Linked DNA regions of Homo sapiens. The protein of the gene in region 1 interacts with the protein of each later gene in a pairwise test. Each region holds a gene or a part of one and is shown in the gene's direction. Other genes may lie near its edges.

Region 1 (8,345 bases):
AAAATAAAGGAAAAAGTTTTATTTTAATACCTTTAAACAGCACTTTCCTTTTGCTCTTGAACAAAGGGCTCCATATTTTCGTTTTGCATTGGTCCCTGCGAATTATGTAAGTGGCCCTGTTTATCAGTCTAAAAACTGAAAGGAAGTTTCAGTGAGCATGGGAGACTTTCAATTCTTGCCTTACAGCAGCATGGCAGACATTGATAGTTGCTTACCCTATAACTATTCTCTTTCTGCCTTGCTAACAGAAACCCCATTTTTGTTCAGGATGACAGTAAGTGCTGTTTAAGAAATAAAGAAAGATTTAAAAATAAAATACTAATTTCTATTATGATTGTATACTTTCAACTGAATTTATATGTATCTATATATAGATATATATAGATATATAGATACATATATATGTATTTTTGATATAGATTTTTTTAAAGATATAAAAAATTGAAATACTTATTTTTCAACAGGGCACATTTCATTTATCAGTCTCTAATGCATTTACGGAGAACTAAACGACCCAGTTCTAGCTAATGAGATGTAAACCAAAGTTTACTACGTGGGGTTTATGAAAAAGCTGTTTTCTTGATTTAAGGAGTAAGAAGTAGACTCAGTTGGCATGTACTTTTGCCTTTACTTTTCATCCTTTTTCTGCCTTAAAAACATATTTAATGCCTAGAATTACAGGAGCCATCTTGAGACATTAGGATGAAAGCTACATGATAAGAATAGAAAAACAAAAACACAGAAGACTGCCTACCTCTGAACTTCTTAGAGGGTGAGAAAATAAATCAGTATTTGGGTAAGTCACTACAGCTAGGTTTCTGTTACTTGAGCTGAACATAAGCAGTCCTTAATCAATACAGACTAGATAACATGAAAACTCTTCTACTACAAATACTTAGAAATGCTGGGTAAAATGCAGCAAAATAAATTAATTAATTAATAATAATGCATACTTGAGCTTACAAAAAAAAAGACAGGGAAATATTCAGGTGGCAAAAATAAAAAAAGAAACTGGACACCAGGGTCTTGAATACAGAATATGACCCTGTCTGGAGAGGAGAAAGGATTGAATGAGGATGGTGCTTGAATGTTTAAATCCATGAGGTGATAAATGGATTTTAAAAATGTGATATATGTATACAATGGAAAACTATTCAGCCTCTAAAAAGAAGGAAATCCTGTCATTTGTGACAACATAGATGAACCTTAAAGACATTATGTTAAGTGAAATAAGCCAGGCCCAGAAAGATGAATATTGCATGATCTCACTTAAATATGGAATCTAAAAAAGTTGAACTCAATAGAAGCAAAGAGTGGAATGGTGGTTAGCAAGGGCTGGGAGAGAGTGAGGGAGCTGGATGACGCTGGTCAAAGGATATACAATTTCAGTTACATAGGAGGAATAAGTTCAAGAGATCTATTGTACAACATAGTGACTATAGTTAACAACATGTTGTATTCTTCAAAATCACTAAGAACAGACTTTAAGTGTTCTCACCATAAAAATAAGTATGTGACGTAATACATATGTTAAGTCACTCAATTTAGCCATTCCAAGATGTATACATATTACAAATCAGGTTGTATACAATACAGTATATACAATTATCATTTGTCAATTTTCATTAATTTTTTTTTTAAGATGGAGTTTCGCTCTTGTTGCCCAAGCTGGAATGCAATGGCGTGATCTCAGCTCACTGCAACCTCCTCGGTTTAAGTGATTCTCCTGCCTCAGCCTCCCGAGTACCTGGGATTACAAGCACCCACCACCACACCCGGCTAATTTTTGTATTTTTAGTAGAGACAGGGTTTCACCATGTTGGCCAGGCTGGTCTTGAACTCCTGACCTCAAGTTATCCACCCACCTCAGCCTCCCAAAGTGCTGGGATTATAGGCATGAGCCACCGCGCCTGGCCTTTATAATTTTTAAAAATACACGGTAACTTGTGATAAGACCTTGGGCCCTTGGTGCAAACAGAAATCAGTTAACTGTGAGCACACCCTGTCCCCCAACTTCATGACCTCACACACACACATAAGTTAAAAACCCATGAAATTCTGTACCCTCAATGAAAGGGTAGACTAGATAGAAGCTTTTCTTCTGGCATAGTAAGAAGCTTTTCTGTCAAGGCACAAGCTCTGAAAGAGAAAAAAACAAGGAAGATCTCTCTCCCTTGAGAATTTGAATCATAGTTTGTACTCCCACAAATCTGGGTTCAAATTTATAATATCTGAATGATCTTAGAACTTCTAAGCCAAGAAAGAAATTCATGTAAAAATTGCTCACTAGCCAGTGATAACCTTAGGGGTCTCTGACAGAAGAAACATTTTTTTCTGTATCACTAAAAATGAGCCATAAAAAAAAAAGCTAAAAGGAATCAATGTACAAAGCAAAAGGAATCAATCCACAAACAAAAAGGTCATCAAATACACAAATAGAAGTATTAGACCCCTAAATGCAAAAGGATTTATCTATATGATATCATTTATGCAGTTTAAAAATATAACATAGTAGTACCATTCATAGATACATATAAATTCAGTGAAAGTACAAAAACATAACAGATATTAATCATACCAATTTAAAAATAGTGGCTAACTCTGGGGAAGGAATAGTGTCAAGAAAAGCCTGAATAATTGATCCAGACTGAAGGAGAATTGAGCAACAAGCTAACTGGATGCAGCACATGATCTTTCTTGGCTGGGACGTTTTTGCTGTAAAGACATTGGAATAATTGGCAAAGTTTGAGTGGGGTTTCTAGGCAAAGGGTACACAGAAGTTTTTGTACTATTCTTGCAACAGTTTTCTTAGTTTGTAAATTGTTTCAAGTTAAAAAATTTGTTTTTAAAAAGAGGATGAAAATGAAAAATAGGAAACAGTTTCAGAGAAGAAATTGCCAGGATAGACCAATTGGTGGTGGGAAATAAGAGGAAATAATCAAAGGGGACTCAGATTTCTGGCTTAGGTGATTTGGTGTGTATGATTCAATTTATCAATGTAGGAAACCCAAGAAAAGAAGAATTTTCAGGAAAAGCAAACTATAACAGACTTGCCACTGGAAATATTGAATCTATGGATAAATAGTTGGAAATTTAGGCTGGGGGTGATGGTGTCACAAAAGAGCTTAGCACTGTAAACATCTTGATTTGATTACTTTTTTCACTTACTAAATCATTTGGGAATTCACTATGTTGCCTGTGTAAACCATAAAATATATAAAAATAAATAGGAAACGGACACTGCCCTTAAGGGACTGATATCTGGTAAGAGAAGTAGAATCAGTCTGTAGGCAAAGGGTAGAGACTGATGGAGCAAGTTCTAGAGGGTGACAAATTAGTTCTCAACCTTGGTCACACATTAAGAACACCTAGAGGAACTCCTAAAACATCCCAATGCCCAGTCCACACTCTGGGACTGGATCCAGGCATCAGTGGTTGCTTAAACTCTCCAGGTGATGCTGATGTGCAGCCAAGATTAAGGGAGCAGTGGCTCTACTCAGAACACCTGAGACACCTATTCCTTTGAAACATTTGGCAATGATGCAGGAAAGAGTGTGGAGAGAACAGGAGGTGGAAATAAGGAAATTTGGTTGAAGAGGCTTCTGCCAAACAGAGTGATGATTTATATTTTCTCTGTAAAGAAAGCGAATCAGCTGGGTGCGGTGGCTCACACCTGTCATCCCAGCACTTTGGGAGGCTGTGGCAGGCGGATCACTTGAGGCCAGGAGTTCGAGACCAGCCTGGCCCACATGGTGAAACTCTGTCTCTACTAAAGATATAAAAAATTAGCCGGGCGTGGTGATGCATGCTTGTAATCCCAGCTACTTGGAAGGCTGAGGCAGGAGAATCCTTGAACCCAGGAGGCAGAGGTTGCAGTGAGCTGAGATCACACCATTGCACTCCAGCCTGGGTGACACAGCAAAACTCTGTCTCAAAAAAAAAAGTGTCAAAGGCTAAGAATAAGGATATATGAAAATAAGGTAAGTCTTTTATGGAGAATGGGGAAACAGGATTACAGCTACAGAGGGTGCAAAAGAAAGAAGTAACATTGTTGTTTTCCCAAGACTGGGAAGATTGAAACACTTGAGGATGAGGATTCAGGGACACCACTGTGTCCACCATTAAAGAATTTCCCCTTTAATGGTGGACACGGTGGTGTGATCCTTTTGTAGAGACGAGCATAGGTTATGGCAAATATACCTACTTTAAAAACAGTGCTCTGGGAAGAGAGTAAGTGCTTTTCCACATAAAGATCTAAAATAGACAATAAATGAGAAATAGGGTTTTTTATTATATATTCATTTTTCCATATTTCTGGAAAATGAAACAGACATGGAGTATTTCAAAGCTGGGAGAGATCATTATATTGGAGTTACCTTAGAAAGAGGGGGCTGTTTCTGCCACCACAACAAAGAATGAAACAACACAAATATTTACGTTTTCTTCTTGTCCTCATAATGCTTTTACTGCACTCGTCTTTCAACCTTTAACATCTACTGCATCTGTGACTGTTGTTTCAGTAAAACACGGAAGCTTGAATGTAAGCTCATTTCATTGCCTGCTGCACAACCACACAAAACAGCATTTTCTTATTCTTGAAATATGATAGCAACGTCTCCTTCCATGCTTGTACCTGTTTTAATTCCTTTCAAGCAGAGGCTGTATCGTGAAAGATGCTTAAGAAGTTACTTGGAACGACAGGATTTGGAACGGATGTCACATCATATTCTCATTTGTTATTAAAATTAGTCACGCTTAATTGTTAAGGACTATCCTGTGTCGCTCGCCATCTTTGTGTCCTCCACCTGGCACTTTGCTTTCACACAGTAGGCACATAGCGTTGAGGTCCCGGAAGGTTGTCAAGTAACCGGCCAGGAGCTTGAGGGCAGGACATTGTCTCCGACACTTGATTCAGTGCCTGGCACACAGGAGGTATTCAATTATGCTGAATGAATGAGCAACCGGCTCGGTGGGGGACAGTAAACCCAACCCTATTCCGCGAACGTTTGCTGAGCGGCATCCAGGCCTCAGGGACCAAGTGTGTCGCGCGGTGCCATACCGTGACCGGGACCTGTTATTTCTAATGTCCAGATATTGTAATTCTATGCTGTAACTCCTATATTTCCTCTTAAAACAAAAAGAGAAATGTGGGTCGTGTTCGCTCTGGGTTCTCGTTAAGTGCAAGCATACAGAGGCGCCGAGACCCCGCGGCTCGCCCTCGCCGCTTCCTCCACAGGAGCCGGGCGGAGCTCCCGGCGCGCCCCGGGGCTGCGCCGCCGCAATCCTCAAGGGGTCGCTGTTCCCGCGATAACCTCGAGAAAGGCTCCGCCCCGCGGCCCGCGCTTGTTTTTCCCTTGGGACCCGGGTCCACACGGCGGGGTCGCCCGTCCATCTCCGGCTCGCCCGCGGGGCCCATCGTCGACGTTAGCGGCCGTTCTCCGAGCCGACTGACCCATCCTTGGCGCTGCCGCCGCGCGCTTGTTCTCCTCCCTCGCCCCGCCTTCATCCTCCCCGTTCACGGAAACGACAGCTGCGGCTGCGGGGCTGGCGCCGCCTCCCTCCACCTACCACGTCTGCCCTCGCCGCTCTAGCCCTGCGCCCCAGCCCGGCCGCGGCACCTCCGCCTCGCCGCCGCTAGGTCGGCCGGCTCCGCCCGGCTGCCGCCTAGGATGAATATCATGGACTTCAACGTGAAGAAGCTGGCGGCCGACGCAGGCACCTTCCTCAGTCGCGCCGTGCAGGTACCCTGGTGCTGGGGGGAAAAGGGGTGGCGGCGCCCGGGAAGGTTGAGGGAGGGGACCGCAGCTCGACGCGGCGCCCCCGGGCCTCGCCGACCACCCAGCGGGCCTGCTGCAGCCAGAGGCCTGGGAGATGGGCGCGGCCTGGTCCCCTCCCCGGGCCCGGCGGCGGATTTCTGCCCCGCTCCTGCCCAACCGCCGCTCCCTGGGAAGCGAGGCGGGGTGGGGACGGGGCCGGGAGCTTCCTCCCACCCCTGGGGAACACTAAGGCTGCACTGTCCGCCTTTCTGATACCACGACGTCAGTGCTCCTGTGGCCTCCACCCCGGGGCTGGCGGAGGCTTGCGAGTCCTTTGCGGTAACCGAGACACAGGCCATTCTTGCACTACCCCCCACCCTTTCCTTTCGTCTCTCACCCTCCCCTCGGAGTCCAAGAAGGGAGTTTCCTTTTCCTGTCCTTCAACCCAGAGAGCTGCCAACACAGTTCCCTCCGGCCCTCTTTCTCCCTGAAAGGACTGTCCTGGGCTTGGCAGCCCGCGGGGGAAATGGAGATCGCCAGTTGGCGTTGAGACTTTGCCAAGACCACAAGAAACCTAGGGTTGGGGGGTTTTCACTCTTTTTCAAAATGGGAAGCACCAGCTGTAGATCAAGGAGAGATGCGGGGATATTGTTATGGCTGTAGTCACAGTAGTATGTTTTAAATATACTTTAAGGGGAAAAGTTGACTACCTCTCGATATTCTACAATCAAGGAAGTGTCAGTACTAAGGAACTTGGGCCGTTTCCCACAGTCATCACCCATGTTATGCCAACTCAGTAAATCTGTGAACAGATGTAAATTTCACAACATGAATTATAAACAATCTGGTGTTTACGGTCACGGTAGCAACAACATTCTCTTTTGTAAAAAGAAAACAAAAATAATTTTCTAATATGCATACCAAATTGGTGCTGAAATGTAAATCTGTTCTGTGGCTTTACTACTTTCCTTGCCTTTGCCCCAATTTTGTTGGCACAGTTGATCCTACATTGCACTATCCCTGGCAAAAGAGTAGTAGAGCTAGAGCAAGGTAATAGCTGCCTATATTATGAAAAACCTGTCAAGCACTTTGTAATGCATTTGACATATTATCTCCAGTCTTTTCCATAACTTTGCCAGATAGATGTTATTAACCCCTTTTATATATGTGAGGAAGCAGCCTTACTGAGGTTAAGAAACTTGCACAACTAGTAAATAACCAGGTGCTGTCTGACCTAGTACTCCCAGCTGCTTTTTCTTCCGGGATAAGCATTCCAGATTTAAGATAGCTAGAATAATAGAATGCTGTGGCCTAGAGAGACCTTAAAAATCATCTGGTTCAATCTGAGCATTTCCATATCAACAAGCAAGTAACACTTTAGAGATGGTAAATTCCTTCTAGCTTTTGATTTCTAAGTTCTAAAATCTGCATGGTGAGTAATAAGCTAGCTGCCTTAACCCTTTTCTTCCCTTCCTTCCCTAAAATATGATATATTGTAGACGTTGAGCCTTTATAGTTAAAATAATGTTTTGATTTAAATTCACTAGCTTCTAATAGTTCAAAGACAAGGTGCAAGAAGAATGAGTGATTGAGGGTGTGAAATGAATTTTGATGTGTGAGACACTTGTACACTTTTAACATTGACTGCAATAGAGGACTAGAGCCCTTGGTATTTTTGTTTGTCCTAGTGCTCATTACCTATAATTCTAGATGCTTATGAGGATTTGACACTGTATAATGCTACTCTTTTAAATACAGTTAAATATGTTTCAGACGTATAACTCACACCCCTTAAAGAGGACACATTTACTAGAATTTAGTCTGATTTAAATTGTGGATAGACTCAATTTAAAAAATTAAATCTAGCAAAGCTCTCAAAATGTGTACTTCCCAAAGAATTTTAATTCCTTGTTTCAAATTCTTTAGGAAAAAGTTTTAAATTTTATGCTAATCTGTTAGCCATCAAATAATTTTCTTTTCAGTTTTAAATATTTAAGTGTCTACTGCATGTCTGATGTCTGCTTGTGGCTACTGTGGACACTGGTGATACAGCAGTGAATAAAATCAGCAAAGTGTCTGCCCTCCTGAAGCTTACATTGTAGCGGAAGATAAGCTTGTAAATACATCAGGTGGTGATAAAAATCATGGCCAGAAGAATAGAATAACGCAGAGATGGTGGTTGTTAATATCTTTATTAGTATTTTCTAACATTAGTATCGTGTATAGATAGGATGGTCAGGGCAAGTCTTTCTAATAGGATGAAATTCAAGAGACCTCAAGGAAGTGACAGACCTAGTTTTTTTTGGAATAAAAGTATTTCAGGCAGCAGGAAGAAGTACAAAGACTGAAGTTTCAGGGGCATTAAGGAGACCAATGAAGGAGCTGTGGCCATAATACACGTAAAAGGCGATTGTAACTTAGATTACAGTGGTAGCAGTGAAGGTTCCAAATTATCCAGTATTGGCTGTTGGATTGGCTGTGAGGTATGAGAGAAAGATGAGTTAAGGATGACTCCAAGGTTTTGGCTTGAGCCGTTTATTAAGGGAAAAATTTTAGGAGAAACAGACTTCTTTAATGTGTCTGTAATTG
Region 2 (7,923 bases), on another chromosome or scaffold:
AAACACAAAAAAGCTTGGGACTTACCAACTAATAATAATATATCCTCTAAAGTTATTACAATGGTTGTGAGAATATTAAACAGAATGATAACCTCTGGCCATCTCTAATTTTATTGGCAATAAATCCCTTTAAGGAAAAGTAGTGTTTATTTCCAAGAGCAAGAGGTAACCCTGGCCTTTGATGTAGACACGGTCCCTCTGAGTACACATGTGATGAATGCTGGCAGACTCCATGGAACACAGACCTATTGGTGGGGGGTCTACTGGCTATGTCTTAGGAACTTACCTTCATTCATTTAGGCCTTAGCAAAGATCACAGTCTATGAAGTTCATGGGCAGTGCTGGCACAGAACCAAGTGAAGGTCTCCAGGCATAACTAGAAAGTGGTGAAGAGCAAAGTTGAGAAAAACAAGCTATCTCTATTGTCAGATCAAATAATTCTTCTTTTTAAAAACCCTTCCATGGCTTCACATTTCAATTAAAAGAAAATGTCACTTCCTCCTCATGGCCTATGGCATGATCCAGCCCCAACATCACCTCCTACTATTCTGCCCCCAACTCATTCTGTGTGGGCCACACTGGTCTTTCCCTGTTCTTTCTGATCTCAGAACATTTTACCATGGCATTCTCATTGTCTGGACCACTCTTTGCATTGATCTTCACATGGCTGGGTCCTTCTCAACATTCAGGTCTCAGCTAAAACGTCACCCTTCTCAGAGAGGTCTTTGCTGACAACCATATCTGAGAAGGTATCCTGAGCTCTCAATCTGTATCGTGCACACTGATCATCTGGGGATCATGTTACAAGACAGACTTTGACTCAGTGGTTCTGGGGAGGGACTTGAAATTCTGCATTTCTAACAAGCTCCCGAGGAATACAAATTTTCTGCTCCACAGATCATCTACCCACAGGGGTGGGTAGACCCCCATGCCTCAATCTTTGTCACACTACCTGTGTCATTTAATTGGTGGCTTTTATCAGGATCTTAAATTATTTATTTATCTGTTTGTGTTGGATTGTTTGTTGTCCAATCTATTCATTTACTAGAATGTAAATTCCCTGAGAGCAAGGAGTCTGTCTAGCACTTTTAAATTCTCAGCACTTCCCACAGTACCTGACACATCATAGGTGCTCCATAAATATTGCTGAATGAGTGAAACATCACTCATTCAAGATTCATTGACTCTGTGATCCCTTCCAGTGTCTGCTTCTGACTGCTTCAGTGAGCACTCAATTATACAACAGAAACTACACTGTAATGATAGGGCAGTGCTACCCAAGTGCCAGTCCAGAAACTGCTAGTTATTGGCCAACACTGAATTAAGAATCTTGTACTATAATATAAATCTGCTATGCCACTAAGCACAATTTTATCTGAGATGAGACATTTTTCATAGTAAGACTTTCTGGATGAGGCAAGCAATGCTTTGCCTTGCCTTGTGGTGAAAGCTCCTCATCTCATATTAGAAGGGTAACAGTGTGTGAACTGGTCCCCACTGGCAAGACACATTTTGAGTTGTGCTGATATAGCGGATATAAAGCCAAATAAGATCTATTTTTTAACTTCAGAAAATCCATACATAGGTAAGAGAATTACACATTCAAATACATAACTGCAAATCTTTTGTCAAGTGCTATAATACGGAATTAAGTGGAAGAACTCAGGAATTGTAGAAAAAAACAAATAATTGGTCTTTTGTGCTCCCCCTTAGTCACACCTTTCCTGACACCTGCTCTCATTATAACCACAAACCCTCCCACCATACCCCTTCCTCCTGATCACATACCACTCATCTGGGCATGTTCTTCCCCTTGGGCCCTGAAACACTGAAGTTACAGGACCAGGCTTGGGTCTTCTGAGAAATTGTGAAAGGGAACTGAGAATTGTGGTAGAGAACAGAAAATGATAGGAGAGATAGGGAATTGTGGGAGAAGGGAGAATTGCGGGAGAGAATAAAGTATCATGAGAGAACAGAGAATTGTGAGAGACAATGTGGAATTGGGAGACAGACTAGGCAGCTGTGAAAGAGAACAGAATATTGTGTAATAAGGGAGAAGTGCAAGAGTGGAGAATTGTGAGACAGAGCAAAGAATTGTAGGAGATACGAGGAATTATGGGAAAGACAAGGAATTATGGGAAAGAACAGAGACTTGTAGGTGAGACAGGGAATTGTGGGAGATAATAAAGAAAGGGGGAAGACATCAGGAATTGTAGGAAAAAACAGAGAATTGTGGGAGTGACACAAAATTGTGGACACACGGGGAATTGTGGGAGAGAAGGGAGAATTATGAAAGAGAAGAGATTATTGTGGGAGAGATGGGAAATTGTGTAAGAGAATAGAGTATTGTGAGAGAACAGAATGATGAGGGAGACTAAGGAGTTAGGGGAGAGACTACAGAATTGCAAATGAGGATGGAGAATTTTAAGAGAATGGAGGACTGTGAGTGAAAGTGAAGAATTATCAGAGAGAAGAAAGAATTAGGAGAGAGATGTGGAATTATGAGAAAGACAGGAAATTGTAGCATATGACACAGAATTGTGGGAGAGAGCAGAATTGTGGGAGAGACATAGATTTGTGGAGAGGACAGCACAAAGAATTGTGGGAGAGACACAGGATTGTGGGAGAGAACAAAAAATTGTGGAAGAGACACAAAATTGTGGGAGAAAAGGGACACTTGTGGGATAGAAAATTGTGAACGAGAATATTGTGAGAAAACAGAATTATGAGAGAGAATGGGAGTTAGGGGAGAGACTGGGGAATTGTGAACAATCATGGAGTATTTTGAGGGAATGGAGAATTGTAAGAGTGGAGAATTCTGCGAAAGAACAAAGAATTGTGGGGGAGATGGGGAATTATAGGAAAGATAGGAAATTGTAGCATAGAATACAGAATTATGGTTGAGATAAGGAATTGTGGGAGAGAACAGAGAATTGTGAGAGGAAACCAAAAATTGTGGGGAGAAACATGGAATTATGGGAGACACAGGGAATTGTGGGAGAACAGAGAACTCAGGGAGAGACAGGAAATTGGGGGAGAGAACAGAGAGTTCTGGGAGATACAGGGAACCATGGGAGAGAATACAGTGTTGTGGGAGAGACGGAATAATTATGAGAATGAAGGGAGAATTGTGGGAGAAAGGAAATCATGAAAAAGAATATTGTGAAAGAACAGAATTATGAGAGATAATGGGGAATTATGGGAGAGACTGGGGAATAAGAACAGAGTATTGTGAATGAACAGAACATTGTGGAAATGAATAATTTTGAGGAATTGTGACAGACAGAGTCATAGGGAATGATGGAAAAGACAGAGAACTGTGGGAGGAATGGAACTGTGGGAAACAGAATTTTGAGAGATACAAGAATTTGTAGGAAAGAATAAAGGCTTGCTGGGAAACCCAGCAAATTTTGGGAAAAACAACAGAATTACGGGCAAGACAGGGAATTGTGGGACAGAAAAGTGAATTGTGGGAGACACAAGGAATCATGGGAGAAACAAGAGAATTGTGAGCAAGACAAGGAATTGTGGGACAGAAAAATGAATTGTGGGAAGGAATAGAATTTTGGGAGTGACATGGGATTGTGGGAGAAATAAGGAATTGTGGGAGAGACAGAAGATTGTGGAAAGAACTGAGAATTGTGGGAGACAGAACTGTGGGTAACAAAACAGAATTGCGGGAGTGAAAAGGAATTGTGGGAGGGACAAAAGAATTGTGGGTAAAGAGAGAAGTTGAGCTGTGATAGTTGAAATGGAATCCTTGGGCTATCCTGTAGGCAGTTCTGATGCTGGGATGGCCCTTCTGAGTTGTCCCCTTTGGGGCTAGGGGCCTGGACTTATGTGCCCTTGCAGAGACCCTCATAGGATGCAGATCGTCCCCAAGGAGGGGAAGTGATTTTGTGTGAGGCAATTCTCTTAGGCAGAGGACAATTCCTGGAGACTCAGCTGAAAGCTGTGAGCCCCCAACACTTTCTGCACCAGGGGACATCTGGACGTATTTCACAGAGCCACTATAGTTATATAGAAAGATATATGTTTCTTTATTAACACTTTAAGTAACAAGATCAAATTACCTTAATTTCAAAGTAGTGGATGGATGATATTTTGAGACAGGCACAACAACCATATGTGACATAATTTATCTGTAATGTGTATTAGTGCCACATACAGCTAATAGTACTAGGATTTATTGCCTACATCCCTGATGGAAGAAAATGCTAAATTTCTGTTGGAGGTAAATGAAAATACAGACATTCAAAATCACATACCCAGTTAAGAAGAATTTAGCAGCCAGAACACTGTCTTGTTCACTTTTGGATCTCCACCACCGAAGTTATGGGCACCTACTAACGTTTCTTGAATCATTGCTACAATTAAAACCGATAAGATTTAAAAAAAAAACAAATTTAAAAACTCCTCCAAAGCACTCCTTCTGCCGCATAAAGCATACATAGTAGAGCTCTTCACTCTAGGGAAGCCTCTGGAGCAGACAACCTTCCCTGCCACCGCCACATTTTGAAAAAGGCTCCTGGCCTGGAGGGGCGGGCCCAGAAAGCGGCCCCCGCAGCAGTTACAGGCCGGGGCGAGGAGGGGACGGAACCCGCTCTCCGTGATTGACGGAAAATATTACTCTTCAGCCCGCCTCCCGCGTGCCCGGAAGTCCCGCCTTCTAAAAAGGAAGTAGGGGTGCGTGAGAACGCCGGCGGTGACCGCAGCCACAGCGGTGACCGAGTGAGAGGAAGGCGGCGGCGGCGGCGGCGGCGGCGTGAAGTCACTGCTGCTCTGGGTTCGGGTTGGCGACTGAAGGCGGTACCGGCCTCCCGGAACAGCCCGGGGGAGGGCTTAGGTGCAGAAGGGCAGGCTGGCCGCGGCCGGTTTGGTCTGGGGACCACGGGCTGGAGCAGGTGGGCAAGCGCCGGGACGGTGTGGGGAAGACACTTGGCAGCTTCTCGACCTCTGGTGTCCCTTCGTTTCTTCGAATTCCTATTCATGCGCCGCACCCTTCTCGGACCCCCAGCCCCTCGCTAAGGCTCTGGGGATGGGGGTCAAGTCTAGGCTCAATGGACCTCCCCTCCTCCACCCGGGTCACCACTCCTCGGAAATCCTCGCCCCACTCCCGCCTCAGGCCTGTACCTCCTGGCTGTGACGTGGTTTCTCAGCGACTGCCTCACCTCAGTCCCAAAATCCTCACTGCCTTAGATACATACGTGCCCCCAGAGGTTGGCCTGGGTTTCACAGTATTTCCCTAAGGGGGCAATATATTAAAGCTGTCCTTCGAAGTTAGTACCCTGCCTGGTAGATGCCCATGGGATGACAAAGAGGAGGAACAAGGGTTGACCAGATTAGGACTAACGAGAGAATAGTCTGAGTCCAGAGACATTAATCTGTCTCTTTGTTTTGGCAGGTGGAAATTTAAAATTGTTTACAGTCAACACTGTTTCCAGCCATGGGTTTGTCTCCATCTGCTCCTGCTGTTGCAGTTCAGGCCTCAAATGCTTCAGCGTCCCCACCTTCAGGATGCCCGATGCATGAAGGGAAAATGAAAGGTAATCGGCCCTTTGCCTAGAAAATAAAAACAAAAGATAATTCACGGCTGGGTGCGGTGGTTCACGCCTGTGACAGCACTTTGGGAGGCCGAGGTGGGTGGATTGCTTGAGCTCAGGACTTCGAGACCAGCCTGGGCAACATGGCAAAAACCTCCCTCTACAAAAAAATACAAACATTAGCCAGACGTGCTGGTGGGTGCCCGTAGTACCAGCGACTTTGGAGGTTGAGGTGGGTAGGATCGCCTGGGAGGCCAAGGTTGCAGTGAGCCAAGATTGTGCCACTGCACTCCAGCCTGGGTGACAGAGTGAGACTGTGTCTTAAAAAAAGTCTGGAAAGCCTCTAAAGGAAGAGGCAGTGTAGTATGCTGCTGAGGCTGGTAGGCATGGGAGTCAGGCACCCTGGGTCTGGTCGTTATTTTGCGTCTTATTGAGGTTTGTGACTCTAAACAAGTTAACTCTGTTAGCCTCAGTCTGTCATCTGTAAGATGAAGATATAATAATGTTTCACAGGCCTGTCATGATGATTGAGGTAGTACATGAGAACGTAGTGAGTACTCTAAACCAGCCCCAACTTCCCAAAGTTTACTTGTGCCTACATCAGTGGTTCTTAACTGGAGGGGGGCAATCCCCCCTTCCCACAGGGGACATTTGCCAATATCTGGAGGCATTTTTGGTTGTCACAACTGAGAGGAAAGTGAATAGAGGGCAGGAGTGCTCCTAAACATCCTACAATGTACAGAACAGCCCCCCAACAAAGAATCAGCTGGCCCCAAATATCAAGAGGGCCAAGGTTGAGAAACCTTAGTCTAGATCTAGCTGTCTTAATAAATAACTTTTGCTCGTATAGCCATTTCAGTATTTTCGTATATAAAAGTAAGCCATCACTTAACGGGCTTGCTGTCCATTCTTTAGATAAGAAAATGAAAATGGAAAAGCTGTCTTTCATTTTTAATTCATTCATGTCTACTTTAGATTTTTTATATTAAAGTGTGGCTTGAATCAGTAAGTCGTGAAGGGCAGAAGCAACATGGTGTGCTTACTGAGTACTAATGTTTGCGCTGTTATTCATTTCTTCAGTCAGCCAGCCTATTCTGAGAGGTCACTGCCCATTCTGTACCAAGCATTGCTGGATTTTGTTTGTTTCTGCACGAGAGAATAACATCATACAAAATGGAGCTTTGCCTGATAGAGCTTACATTCTCATCTTCATAAGCTATGTGGTCTTACGACTTCATAAGCTAAGTTTTCTCCCTATTTTATAGTCAAGGAAACTAAGACTTGGAGTAACTGATGCTCCAAGTCACATAGTAAGTGGCAAAGCCAGCAAAAGTTCTGTGACCTTGGACAAGGACAGGCAGTGTTCTTCTGGGGTTTCTTTGTACAGGAAGAATTGAGACAGATCAGCCAAAGCAGGTGTGCTCCTGTTCTGAGTGTCCTCAGGGAGATTCTAGAACCCTTACTTTGGTTTTATTTCATTTGCTGTATATCTTGGAGAGCTGCCAGACTTACTACATTAATAAAGAATGTGGGTGTCTATAGGAGATCGAAGGGGCTACTGGTTATATGACGTGAAAAGTTGAAATGTTATTTTCTTTGTAACACCCAGCTGGGATCTATGACTTGGAAAGGATTGGTGCTTTCAGTGGTAGAGAGGAAAGGCATAGCAAGTCTTCCTTCACCCCTAAAGTGGGCAGTGGCACAGGGCACCAGGAAATGAGGGCTTGGGAGGAGAAGTGCAGGGAAGGAAGTGAAAGCAAACTCAGCTTTTTCATGTGTATTGCTGTAGTTGCTGCTGCTGCTGCCTGAGGCCAAGATTCCATTACATGAGCAGCTGTCTTCTGTGTCTCAGCTCTCCAAGTGCCTGCTCATTCTCTGAACCAGTTTCCCAGTCCCTCACTAATTGGGATCAGCATCCTGGGTCTTTGGGCATAGCCCTTGCTATTGCTCATCTCATTAGGCTCAGACCTTCCCTCGTAATGGGCATCTTGATCCTGTATGGGTTGTGGAATATTTTCTTTATTGTCTGTCTTTTCCTGTTAAACTCTTGCCATTGACTGATGGGAATAGGCCATAGGCCACGTGGTTTTCCTGTGCCTTGTTTCAGTCTTGAGACAAAGCAGAGTGGCATTCAGATTTTTTTGCAGTAGCCTCTGTGATGTCTCCTCTGTTCATTTTCTCCTCCCCTTCCTTGTACCTGAGATAATGCATCAGTAATGAAAGCCTGGATTGCAACTGTGTCCTGATTGGATCTGGGCTTCTCTGGAACTAGTGAATGGAAAGTCAAGGAGACCCTGTGAAATGTGGCTGGTCCCCTCTTAGGTTCCTCTAACAGCTCCCCAGCTGCTCATCCAGCCAGGTTACTCAAACCATGGCACAG

What was found.
Region 2: the proteins of SH3GLB1 (region 1) and HCCS interact in binary tests that used the Homo sapiens proteins (3 or more experiments, as listed by UniProt).

What each region holds. Positions count from the first base shown.
Region 1 is NC_000001.11:86,699,231-86,707,575, forward strand, and holds the start of SH3GLB1 (endophilin-B1), read left to right. Parts: upstream 1-5,345; 5' UTR 5,346-5,669; coding exon 5,670-5,741; intron 5,742-8,345. UniProt on the Homo sapiens protein: May be required for normal outer mitochondrial membrane dynamics. Required for coatomer-mediated retrograde transport in certain cells. May recruit other proteins to membranes with high curvature. May promote membrane fusion.
Region 2 is NC_000023.11:11,106,615-11,114,537, forward strand, and holds the start of HCCS (holocytochrome c-type synthase), read left to right. Parts: upstream 1-4,717; 5' UTR 4,718-4,904; intron 4,905-5,404; 5' UTR 5,405-5,446; coding exon 5,447-5,546; intron 5,547-7,923. UniProt on the Homo sapiens protein: Lyase that catalyzes the covalent linking of the heme group to the cytochrome C apoprotein to produce the mature functional cytochrome.